2 separate regions of the Homo sapiens genome follow, and region 2 is linked to region 1. The links come from fine-mapping of genetic effects on gene expression. A gene starts in region 1. The other region holds a variant in brackets. All regions are shown on one strand. Distances are between the middles of the regions.

Region 1 (5,382 bases):
GCTGCCCACACCGTTAACAAGAGCTATCATTCACTGTGGGGTCACCATTTGCCAGACACTGAGCCAAGCGCTTTCCACACCAACTTATCTAATCCCCAAACAACCCTGGGAGGTAGGGACTTTTATTATCTTCATCTTTCAGACAAAGAAACTGAGGCTCAGAAAGTTATGTGACTCAATAAAAGTCACACAAACAGCAAGAGGCACAGCCAGGCACGAACGTGGGCTTTCTGACTTTTATCCACTGTGCTCCACACCCTATAAACCTAAAAACTTTCAGACACATCTCATTCCCCAGGATTCCCCCACTGTTTAGGGTACAGAATCTAGGGGTCATGGAATCCACAGCACTGGTTAAAATCCCTCAGACTCCTTTCAGACAAAGGAAACAGATGGAATAAAGGGGATGGGAGGAGAAATATAGAAATCTGTCCAAGGCCAGATTCCAGCCAAGATCCTACACTAAAAAATGGCAAGCCTTAGGCAAATCTCATCTGCCTTCAAGTTGGCTTCTCCCTCCACTGTAGGGCTAAGCCACCTGCTTTATATAGTCCACAAAGCCCTTCTGTGAATCAGTCTTTTACAAAGGGAGATATGTACAGCAGTAACTATTGACTAAGACAGAAGGCAGCAAGTTCATTATGAGAAGGACAGACAGAAATGCAGACGGGTCTGGAAAGCGGACCCCTATGGAACACATGGAACTTGAGGTAGCCCTTGACTTCTGGGGGCATTTTACCCAATGGAGCTTGGCGGAGCGTTGATGAAGGAATGGAGTGAGCACACGCACAGAGGCAGGAGCACATTTTAAAACTGAGTTTCCACTGTGCCAGACCCTAGGTGGGTTAGGAGGTGGCAAAGGTAATGGGAGACATGGCTGCTGTGCTGTTCAGAGCTTTGGGAGCCTGCTGAGAAGTCTGGACTGTTCTGGGCAGACGAAGGGCAGCGTCAGGTCTGAGAAAAAAGGAATGCTCCGAGGTGAAGGCAGGGCCTCAAGGCAAATCTGGAGAGTATAAGAGACTAAAGGGAGCGATGGTAACACAGTATCGCACTCAGAGGTTACAGCAAACACAGGGACACAAACTGGAGGAGGACCGACCTGGAACTGCCTGACTTTGGCCAATGAGGCGGCACGATGGAGGGGCACAGAAGAGGACGGTTGCCAAAGATGACCAAGGTTTGGGGGCCGAGAAGTGGAGGCGGAGGAGGAGAGCAGTTTCACTAATACAGCTGGAGAAGTGAGGAGGCAGGGCTTGCTTGAAGGAAGCGCTGGACGCACAGCCTGCAGCGCAGGACAGAGAAGAGACAAAGAACTGGAAAGTGATAAAGTCGTGGGAGGAGGTGAGACTGGAGGGAGAGACGAAGAGGAGCGAGAACTAGCAGAGTCCATGAAGGCACTTTTTCAAAGTTAGGTGGTCACCAAAAAACAGGTAATCAATCCTGTCACCAGCCGCGGGGACAGCGAGGCCTTGGGCTTGGAGGGGGAGGATGCCGACGATGCCGACCGCGCATCAGATCTCGCCGGGAGGAGGGCGCGGGCGCTCCACTTGTTGCAAAGAACGCCGGGTTCCTCTGGGCCATTGGGCTGCCGCTCCGGCGGGGAGCGCGGAAGGCTGGGCCTCAGGTAGCTTCAATCATTCACCTGCTGGTTACGGGTCGCGGCGCCGGGGACCCTACTCCGGACCTCGGCCATGCAACCCGCAGCATACGGAGAACGCTGGGCGCCCGCTCCGCTGCCCCGCTTCCTTCCTGCCCCTGGGCCGCTCCTCTGCACCCCGGGAGCCCTCCCCTGACGCACCCGTCGGTCCCTCGGAAGAGCCCTCTGCCGCGCAGCCCCGACACCCCCCGCCCCGCATCCGCCCAGGCCCCCGGGACCCTGCTCCTCCGCCTCAAACTTCCCTTCCGTCTCTCACAACCTCGTACCTCCTGGTAGGATGTGGAGCGCTCCTGCCGGATCATGGCACTGACCAGAGCTTCGGCACACCTGAGACCGCCCCAGCCCGCGGCGCACGGACGCAGCACTGCGGCCGCTGCACCTGGACCTACCGGCTCCGCGAGGCGAAACCGGTCCGGAGGGGCGTCCCAGAGACCAGGCGTGGCGATACTCGGCGCATGCGCCTGGCCGCTGCCGCCCAGGAGTCGCGAAAGTGTTGATGGGAAATGTAGTTCTGGGCGGGGGCGCCCCTCACACCAGCTCTCACCCCTGTGGCGGAGGCCTGCATGTGACCCTGGGCCAGCTAAGCTGGTCCTTAGACGCGTGCCTCTGCGTCTCTCACTTCCTCTCTTTGTTGGAGGGGGAGGGACGGAGAAGAGGAGTGGAAAGTGGAACAAAGTCAGATGAGTAGGAGCCCCTAATCTATAATTGCAAGAGGAAGCTTGGCCTGGCGGTTTAAAACGGTAATAAATGTCTGGAGAGCACTTTGTATGTTAGTTACAAAGCGCTCTCACTCACATTATGCCGTTGATTCTGCAAGGAACCCTGTAAGAAGGACATTTTTCTCCCTAATTTACAAATGAGGAAACTGAGGTACTTTGTTTCAGAAAGGATGCGGGTGGAGCGGTAATCAAATGAAGATTATTTCATCCAGGGGTAGACTGCGGAGCCCATGTTCTCTCCATTATTCCAGGGGCAGGAGTACCCCTAGGTTCTTGTCCTGGCTCTGACCCTCCCCTTTAGGTCTTGCAATGCTCTGAGCCCTCCTCTCCTCGCCTTAGAATGCAACTGCTAAACCCTGCCCTGCCTGACAAGGCCTATGAAAGCAGAAAGGAAGGATCGTGCAGAGAAAGCCTAAAGCCGCTGTTCAGCCACAGAAGAAGCCTCAAGCGCTAGATGTGGCGTCAAATCTGGTGTTGGCCCTGTGGCAGGGTGGACCTGAAGACCACATCTTCCTCTCCTCCCACTGCCTGAAACAGCTGTTGTGTGAGGGCCCTCGGCTCCTCAGTGGTGAAGCAGATAGAGGCTGCTTGTTGTGCCTTGGTGAATGCTGCTCTGTGTCCCTTGCAGCTGCAGCTTGGTAACCCCTCCACTCAGGCCACTGGGAGCCTCTTCTCTCCTCAGTGATAAGCAGAATAGTGCCAGCCACATCAAAGAACCCTGGACCTCCTGGAGCATTAGCAATGGGAGGTCCCCATCACCTCTCCTGACCACTCACCCCTATCCTAGGCCCTCTGCTCTTAAATCTGTTATATGGGACAATATATATAGTGCCTAACACATTGTAGGCACTCGACAAATGTTTGTTAAATTTATGAATGGAACACTGATTCCAGCCATTTCATTTAACAGTTGCTTACCAAAACAAATTAACAATAGCAGACCACTAATTAAATTCCTTACTGTGTTAATACAATGGTACTTGATAGAACAAGTTCACACCATCATAGAATATTAGAGCTGGAAGGAACCAGAGAATTCTATTCCAACCCTGTCATTCCTCTCTAGTCTTTGTTGGTGTGACCAAACTGGAAAATTATGGGCTCCCACATTTGAAGGAGATACTGGCTAATAAAATATAAAATATGGCTTAACAAATACAATGTGCTGGGCACTGGGATACAGAAATGGATAAGATACCCTTGGGTCCTGGCTTTCGTGGCTCTTTCATGCAACTGTGGAGAGACAGATCATAAACATGTAAATAATGTTCTGTCCTTGCAGCCCCCAAGTCCTCTCTCCCATTCCTTCATGAGCACACACCAGTCAGGCTTTACTCCCCTCCACTCCACTGGAACAGTGCTTGTCAAGGTCACAAGTGACCTCAGTGTTGTCACATCAGATGGCCATTTTCCCATCCTCCTCTTTCTTGATTTATCAGCCACAGTGGACTTGGCTGATCCTCCCTCCTCCTTGATACGCGTTCCTCCCTGGCTTCCAGGACACCACACACTCCCGGCTTGCTCCTACCTCACTTTGAAGCCATCCTCACAGGGTTAACACGAATTCTGCACAGAAATAGAGTTATAATTAAGCATTAATCAGGCTGTAATTTGACCCACTTCCTTGTAGCCAAAAGTCATGTAGCACTAGATACTGACCATTTGCATCTCCACTGCTCCTACAGGTAGGATTTCTGACATTGGAATCATAAGGCTTTTGCTTAAGAATTGTTTAAGGCCAGGCCCAGTGGCTCACGCCTGTAATCCCAACTCTTTAGGAGGCCGAGGCGGGCGGATTGCCTGAGGTCAGGAGTTCGAGACCAGCCTGGCCAACATGGTAAAACTTCATCTTTACTAAAAATACAAAAATTAACCAGGCATGGTGGCGGGCACCTATAATCCCAGCCTCCCTAGCCTCCCTACTCAGGAGGCTGAGGCAGGAGAATCGCTTGAACCCGGGAGGCAGAGGTTGCAGTGAGCCAAGATCACACCATTGCACTCCAGCCTGGGCGACAATAGCAAAATTCTGTCTCAAAAAAAAAAATTGCTTAAAATGTTTTTCAGATCACAAATTCCAGTGAAACAGCTGACACCAACAAGTTTGAAGACACCAACAGAGGAATGGAATCAGCATGAGAATACAGCTGCTTCTCTCTCTGTCCAATGATTTCACCCTGTTCCCTTTGGCCAATCAGCAGTCTCCACACTTCAGCCTACTCCTTAAAAACCCTTAGAAAAGCCGCAAACTCCTTGAGAGAGGGTTTGAGGTTCCCCTCCATCTCCTCGATTGGAGGCCCTATTGGTAAGCCTCTTTTTCTACTGCAACTCCGTCTTGGCATATTGACTTGCTGCACACATCAGGCAACAGGCCTATTACAGTTACAGTTACTGCTCTTTCTCAGCCTCTCTGCTGACTTCTCCTCATCTCAGCTCTACAGGGCGGACTTTCCCAAAGCTAGGTTTGTTGTTGTTGTTTTGGTTTTTTTTAGATGGAGTCTCGCTCTGTCACCCAGGGTGGAGTGCAGTGCGGCAATCTTGGTTCACTGTAACCTCTGCCTCCCGGGCTCAAGTGATTCTCCTGCCTCAGCCTTCCAAATAGCTGGGATTACAGGTGCCTGCCACCATGCCTGGCTAAAATTTTCATATTTTTAGTAGAGACGGGGTTTCGTCATGTTGGCCAGGCTGGTCTCAATCTCCTGACCTCAAGTGATCTGTCTACCTCAGCCTCCCAAAGTGCTGGGGGAATTATAGGCGAGAACCACCACGCCCAGCCCCAAAGCTAGATTTTCCACCTCCTTTCTATTCACTCCGTAGGGGCTAGTGAAGTGGTCACCTCTAGCCTCATGGCTTGAATTATCATCTATACCCTAAAGATTCCTGCTATAATTGACTTGTGTTCCCCCAAAATATGTTGAGGACCTAGACCTCAGTACCTCAGAATGTGACCTTAGATGGAAATAGGGTCATTGCAGATGTAACTAGGATGAGGTCATATTGGAGTAAGGT
Region 2 (5,382 bases), 76 kb before region 1:
CCACCTGGAATTCTTTTGTTTCGTACTAAAAGTTTACGTTTTACATTTAGCTTATGAGATCCTAGATGCTAGAAACTAATTTATTAGGGTGGAAAATAAACATTAGTTGTTAATGAGGGAGTAATTACAAGTAATCTCAAAACCTTTCAAGCCTTTGTTTCCCCACCCTTTTCATGAATTTTCTAAACATGTGCTAATAAAAGTTTATCTGTTTTTACTTATTCTTACACTGTAATGGAAATACTAATGAGCAATGGAATAATGGAATAAAAAGAGATAGAAGAAAGGACCACAAGGAAGGTCATTTCAGTATTAGGGGATAGGTTGTATCTTCTAATTTATTAAGTGTAGTATTACATGGTAACTTAATGTACAACAGTTTTAAATTATTTTCTCATTTCTTTCCTAAGTATTATTGCTTTCTATTTATTGAAGACTAACAATATATTAATTTTCTGCACTTTTAGATAATTAGGACACTTGGCTGCTGTACTAGCCTGGAATACAGGCAGATTGTGTATTTTCACTTTCTTTTATTAATTACTTTAGTGGCACAGATAATTAAGATTTAATTATGTAGGATAGTGCCTAGAACATAGACCTTTTTAGGAATAAGTTGTATTTTAGGGATTAGAAGGCTTTTCTCTCTGGGCAATATAATTAGAAATTTAAACTAGCAACATACATATATTACAGTGTACACCTTTACATTCAAATAACTCTTGGCCATATACTATATTTTAAATATTTTCATGGGCTAAGAATCCAAAATGGTAGGAATCATAGCCTAATGCACTAACTTTATAGCCACAAAAATAAAAAGGAATATCTTTTATATAAGGTTGAGAAATACTTTCATTGCTTTGGCCTTTTTCATTGTGAATAGTTATTATCTTTTTAGTTCTTATGGATAAAAGAGCAGAGGGAAAAAACCTAGGCTCCCTGTATTTAAACTATTCAAGGTTTATGCACAATCTGTGTTTTCACAAGGATTACAGAGAAAAACAGATTCTTAAAAAACTAAGATTTTGTTAATGTTTACCTCATCCCAGGCAATGTTCTTTTTGGGTGCTTAATATATAATATCTCATATAGTTGACTATGCATTAATTTTTATATGAATTCTTTTATATATTAAATCAATTAAAAACCTTATTTACGTTTCCTCTTAATAGAGGTTGGAAAACATTGGTCACCTGTATTACTTGAAAGCAGCCTCTTAGGTACTTGTAGGTCTTTAAAGTTTGCTTCTGAGTCTTTGCCTCTCTGACCCAAACATTTCTATTCCTTTAGCTTTTTGTATAGGTCTTATTTTTCAGATACTTTAATCATCTATGCTGTTTTCTGTTGGAACTTCTCCCAAGTCTTTTTAATGGTGAAGACCAGAATTCTATGTTTTATGTTAACTCCCTTAGGAAAGACATGGTCAGAACTCAGTAGAATAGTAAGATTACACTCCTCAATTCCCTATACTTTTTAGTTATCTTTCACTTTTTAGGGTATTTTTGGTGTACAGAAGTAGAAGGACTAGCCATACATTGAACATAGTTGAAGTTTGTCATTTTATTAGTGAACTGAATTCACTGGTGAAGTGCCTGTTTTTCTTTGCAACACTGTTTCTTAGATTCTTGGAGCAAGTTATTTGTATAGAAGACCATAGAAGGCTGGGCGCAGTGGCTCACGCCCACTTGTAATCCCAGCAATCCCAGTAATCCCAGCACTTTGGGAGGCTGAGGCAGGTGGATCATGAGGTCAGAAGGATCATGAGGTCAGGAGTTCGAGACCAGCCTGAACAACATGGTGAAACCCCGTCTCTACTAAGAATACAAAAATTAGCCAGGCATGGTGGCACACGCCTCTAATCCCAGCTACTCAGGAGGCTGAGGCAGGAGAATGGCTTGAACCCAGGAGGCAGAGGTTGCAGTGAGCCGACATTGCGCCATTGCACTCCAGCCTGGGCGACAAAGCAAGACTCTGTCTCAAAAAAAAAAAAGAAAGAAAACAAGACCATAGAAAAACTTCAGTCACTACGTAGAAACACACCTTCTTAACAAATGTGATTTTCATTCATTCAGTAAGCATCTATTGTGTGTCAAGCATTTTTGTAAACATTGAGGGTAAAGTAATGAACTAAGCAAAATCCCTTACATCCTAGCAGAGAAGAACAAAATAATAATAAAATAATTGGCATATATTCTATGTTACGGTGTGATACATTTTTTAAAATGTAGGATGGAGTAAATAGAGAGTGACACTGGGACAGGATAAATTTTATAGAAGCATAATCTCAATTATTCCATTTTGAAGATTTCCAGCTCTGTAGATCACTAGTGTTTCTTCTACCTCTATTTGGGATAACTATTCATCATTTTTATTTATTTATTTTTCTGAGATGGAGTTTTGCTCTTGTTGCCCAGGCTGGAATGCAATGGAGTAATCTCGGCTCACTGCAACCTCTGCCTCTCAGGTTCAAGCAATTCTCCTGCCTCAGCCTCCCAAGTAGCTGGGATTACAGGCATGCACCACCATGTCTGGCTAATTTTGTATTTTTAGTAGAGACGGGATTTCTGCATGTTGGCCAGGCTGGTCTGGAACTCCCGACCTCAGGTGATCCACCCGCCTCAGGCTCCCAAAGTGCTGGGATTACAGGTGTGAGCCACTGCACCCGGACCTCAATATGTATTTAAGTAACTTTTTGTCATCATCTCTTTAGTGGTGCTAAGTTGGCGGCATAACAGCATTTTGCTGCTAATTTTGACTGATCACCTAATGTTTACTGTGTCAGGTAAATGATGTAGATGAAAACTATGAAAGAATTTATATGTGGTATTTGTGAATGGCACAGGTTTCAATTATATATATGGTTCAATTATATATATGGTTTAGAGAATTCAGTTTGAGAGAATTAGAGAATTCAGTCTGATTTGTAGCTTGATGTCATAAAAGTCTCCCATAGGACAGGCTATTACTCTGAAAACTATTAAGCCTTAAACCCTATATTTCTGATGAAGATCTTAAGAAGGGAGAGTAAATAGGCTAATGCATGCCACATTTGGCTCATGTTTAATGTTTAACCTGATCCCACCTTATGGTGGAATCTCCAGGGATTTGCATAAAGATTTGGAGTCTATAATTCCATACCATCAACCTATACTCTGCATTCTCTTCATCTCAAGACATGCTGCT[T/TA]AAAAAAAAAAAAAAAAAAAAAAAAGCCAGGCATGGTGGCTTACACCTTACCAGCACGTTAGGATGCTGAGGCGGGTGCATAGCTTGAGCCTGGGAGTTCGAGACCAGCCTGGGCAACGTGGTGAAACTCTGTCTCTAAAAATAAATAAATATATATATTTTTAAATCAAGACATGCTGCTACATTTCTATAAAATAAAAGCCATCCTCTTCCTGAGGATCCAGAATCAAAACAAAGGATCTAGAATCAAAACAAATGCAGGGCTCAAGTTGCATATCCTCCTTAAAGCTTTTCCTACCTATTCCACAGTGATACAGCCCTTTTCTAAATAGCTCCTGCACTTATAGTCTGTGCCACATAATATAATTTTTGTGTAGTGAATGGGCTTTTTGAGCCATACCATCCCTAATGTCTGTTCATACTATACATAGCCCAGTACTGGACATGAAAATAGGCACTGAATGAATTAAGTTGTGCCGTTAATGAAACTGCATAGCAGTCCATGAGACTGTGCTGACTTTTCAGAGCGCTCTGTGATCAGTTTTGTATATCTTTTTGCACGTGTATACCCCAAAGCAAAATTATCTTTTATCTCTATTGTTGTTTGATTAGAAAATTATCTATGAATAAAAACTTAAATTGCTATCAAGTTTTATTTCTTGTTATATCCTTAATTTATGATAAACACAAAATGTTAGGTAACATTAGACCAGATAAGCATCACTCCTTTTCCACAGTTGGGCAGAGATACATCAAGCAAAATTGTATTTGCTCAGATCCCCAAACTTTTGTTAGCTGTAGACTGTTACTGAACTCACAGTAGTAAAAATGTGTTGTTACTTGGTGAATGATAAGGCCTAGATCTGGTAGTGCTTTTGTTTGCTCTAAGGTCTATTAATTTAATGTAGCAATCTTTCTTTTCCCTTTTTCTTTTCTAACTTCTACATCAACCTAACTGGCTACCTAAATGTTCATTGAATGACTGTTTTTGCTTTGGGATAGAATCCTCCTTTTTTATTTTTAGGGTGTTAAATTGATATAGTATTGTTTAATAGCTAATAAGATACATTTTGGGCTAAGTTTCTGCTTTTTATACCTATTAGGTTACAATAAAAAAAAACTTTAGTCATATTTGCCTTTCTCCTTGAAAGCAGGTATGATAGTGACAAGCTGAACCAAATATTTAATTCTGATTTGTGGTAGCAAGTGAACATTTGCTATTACTTGTAGGTTGCTTGGCACTTTTATAGAAGGCCTGCTATGACTTCTAGTTTATTTGCTGTGGTTGGTACACAGACATTTCTTCCCTAGCCCTGTACTTACGTAATTTGGTTCATTATTTCTCAAGTGTGGATAGGATATGCCTGGTTTTGATTTAATTAGTTTTCCCACTGTAGTTTTATAGAAAGACCAGAAGTTTTTCTTTTCCTTTCTTTTTAAAAATTAATGATACACTGCCTGTTTTATCTGGAGGTTGTTGACTCTGCATTTAAGAAACTCTGTAGTGATTAAATTGAGGTAGGTAGTAGTCCACTGGGAAGGAACATCTTCCTAGTGAGTATGGATTACAAAATAGGAATATATTTAATTAAGAAATATTTAATTTTATAGGCATTGTCCTTATTTTCTAGCTCCTGTAATTTAACGTTTTGCATCAAGTTATGTAAAGCAATAAATAAATCTCAAAGTTTATCAGCTTAGGAAACCAAATGGTGAATATATAGTTTCTAGGTTTGTTTGTTTATTTATTTATTTATTTTTCAGACAGAGTCTCACTCTGTTGCCCAGGCTGGAGTGCAGTGGTACGGCACAGTCACGGCTAACTGCAGCCTTGACCTCCAGACTCAAGCAGTCTTCCTACCTCAGCCTCCCAGTAGCTGGGACAACAGACATACGCCACCATGCCTGGCTAATTTTTTGATTATTTGTATAGACAGCGGTCTCACCATGTTGTCCAGGGTGGCCTCAAACTCCTGGGCTCAAGGGATTCTCCCACCTCAGCTTCCTAAAGTGTGTTGGGAGTACAGGTGTGAATTTTTAAAAAAAATTTTTTTTATCAACTCATTACATTTTATAATGAGATCTGAAATCTCCCCACTAAGTTGGTAAGAAAAGGTGTGTTTTTAATATGAAGTGATTATTTAGGGTAATATTCTGTAGCCATCATCTTAGCCTTTATTTGACTTTCTCTCATAG

Direction of the effects. Alleles are on the strand shown, and positions count from the first base shown. SD is a standard deviation of normalised expression in the study named.
For the expression in CD4 T cells of the gene that starts at base 2,088 in region 1, allele TA in region 2 goes with a higher level than allele T (moderate effect, 0.60 SD a copy in BLUEPRINT).

Evidence for each region. PIP is the estimated chance that this variant, and not a neighbour inherited with it, causes the effect.
Region 2: its variant is the best candidate, but not a certain one, in a credible set for the expression of PACC1 in CD4 T cells (BLUEPRINT, PIP 0.60).

What each region holds. Positions count from the first base shown.
Region 1 is chr1:212,412,799-212,418,180 of GRCh38, forward strand. PACC1 (proton activated chloride channel 1) reads right to left here and starts at 2,088. Exons shown (of 8, transcript NM_018252.3): 1 at 1,924-2,088. The coding sequence starts at 1,959. RefSeq lists a silencer at 1,740-1,799.
Region 2 is chr1:212,336,806-212,342,187 of GRCh38, forward strand. The region is part of intron 3 of PPP2R5A (protein phosphatase 2 regulatory subunit B'alpha); the gene reads left to right. Among named protein-coding and RNA genes, the nearest start is that of SNORA16B, 13 kb to the right of the region's middle. The variant T/TA (reference allele first, on the strand shown) is at 3,187.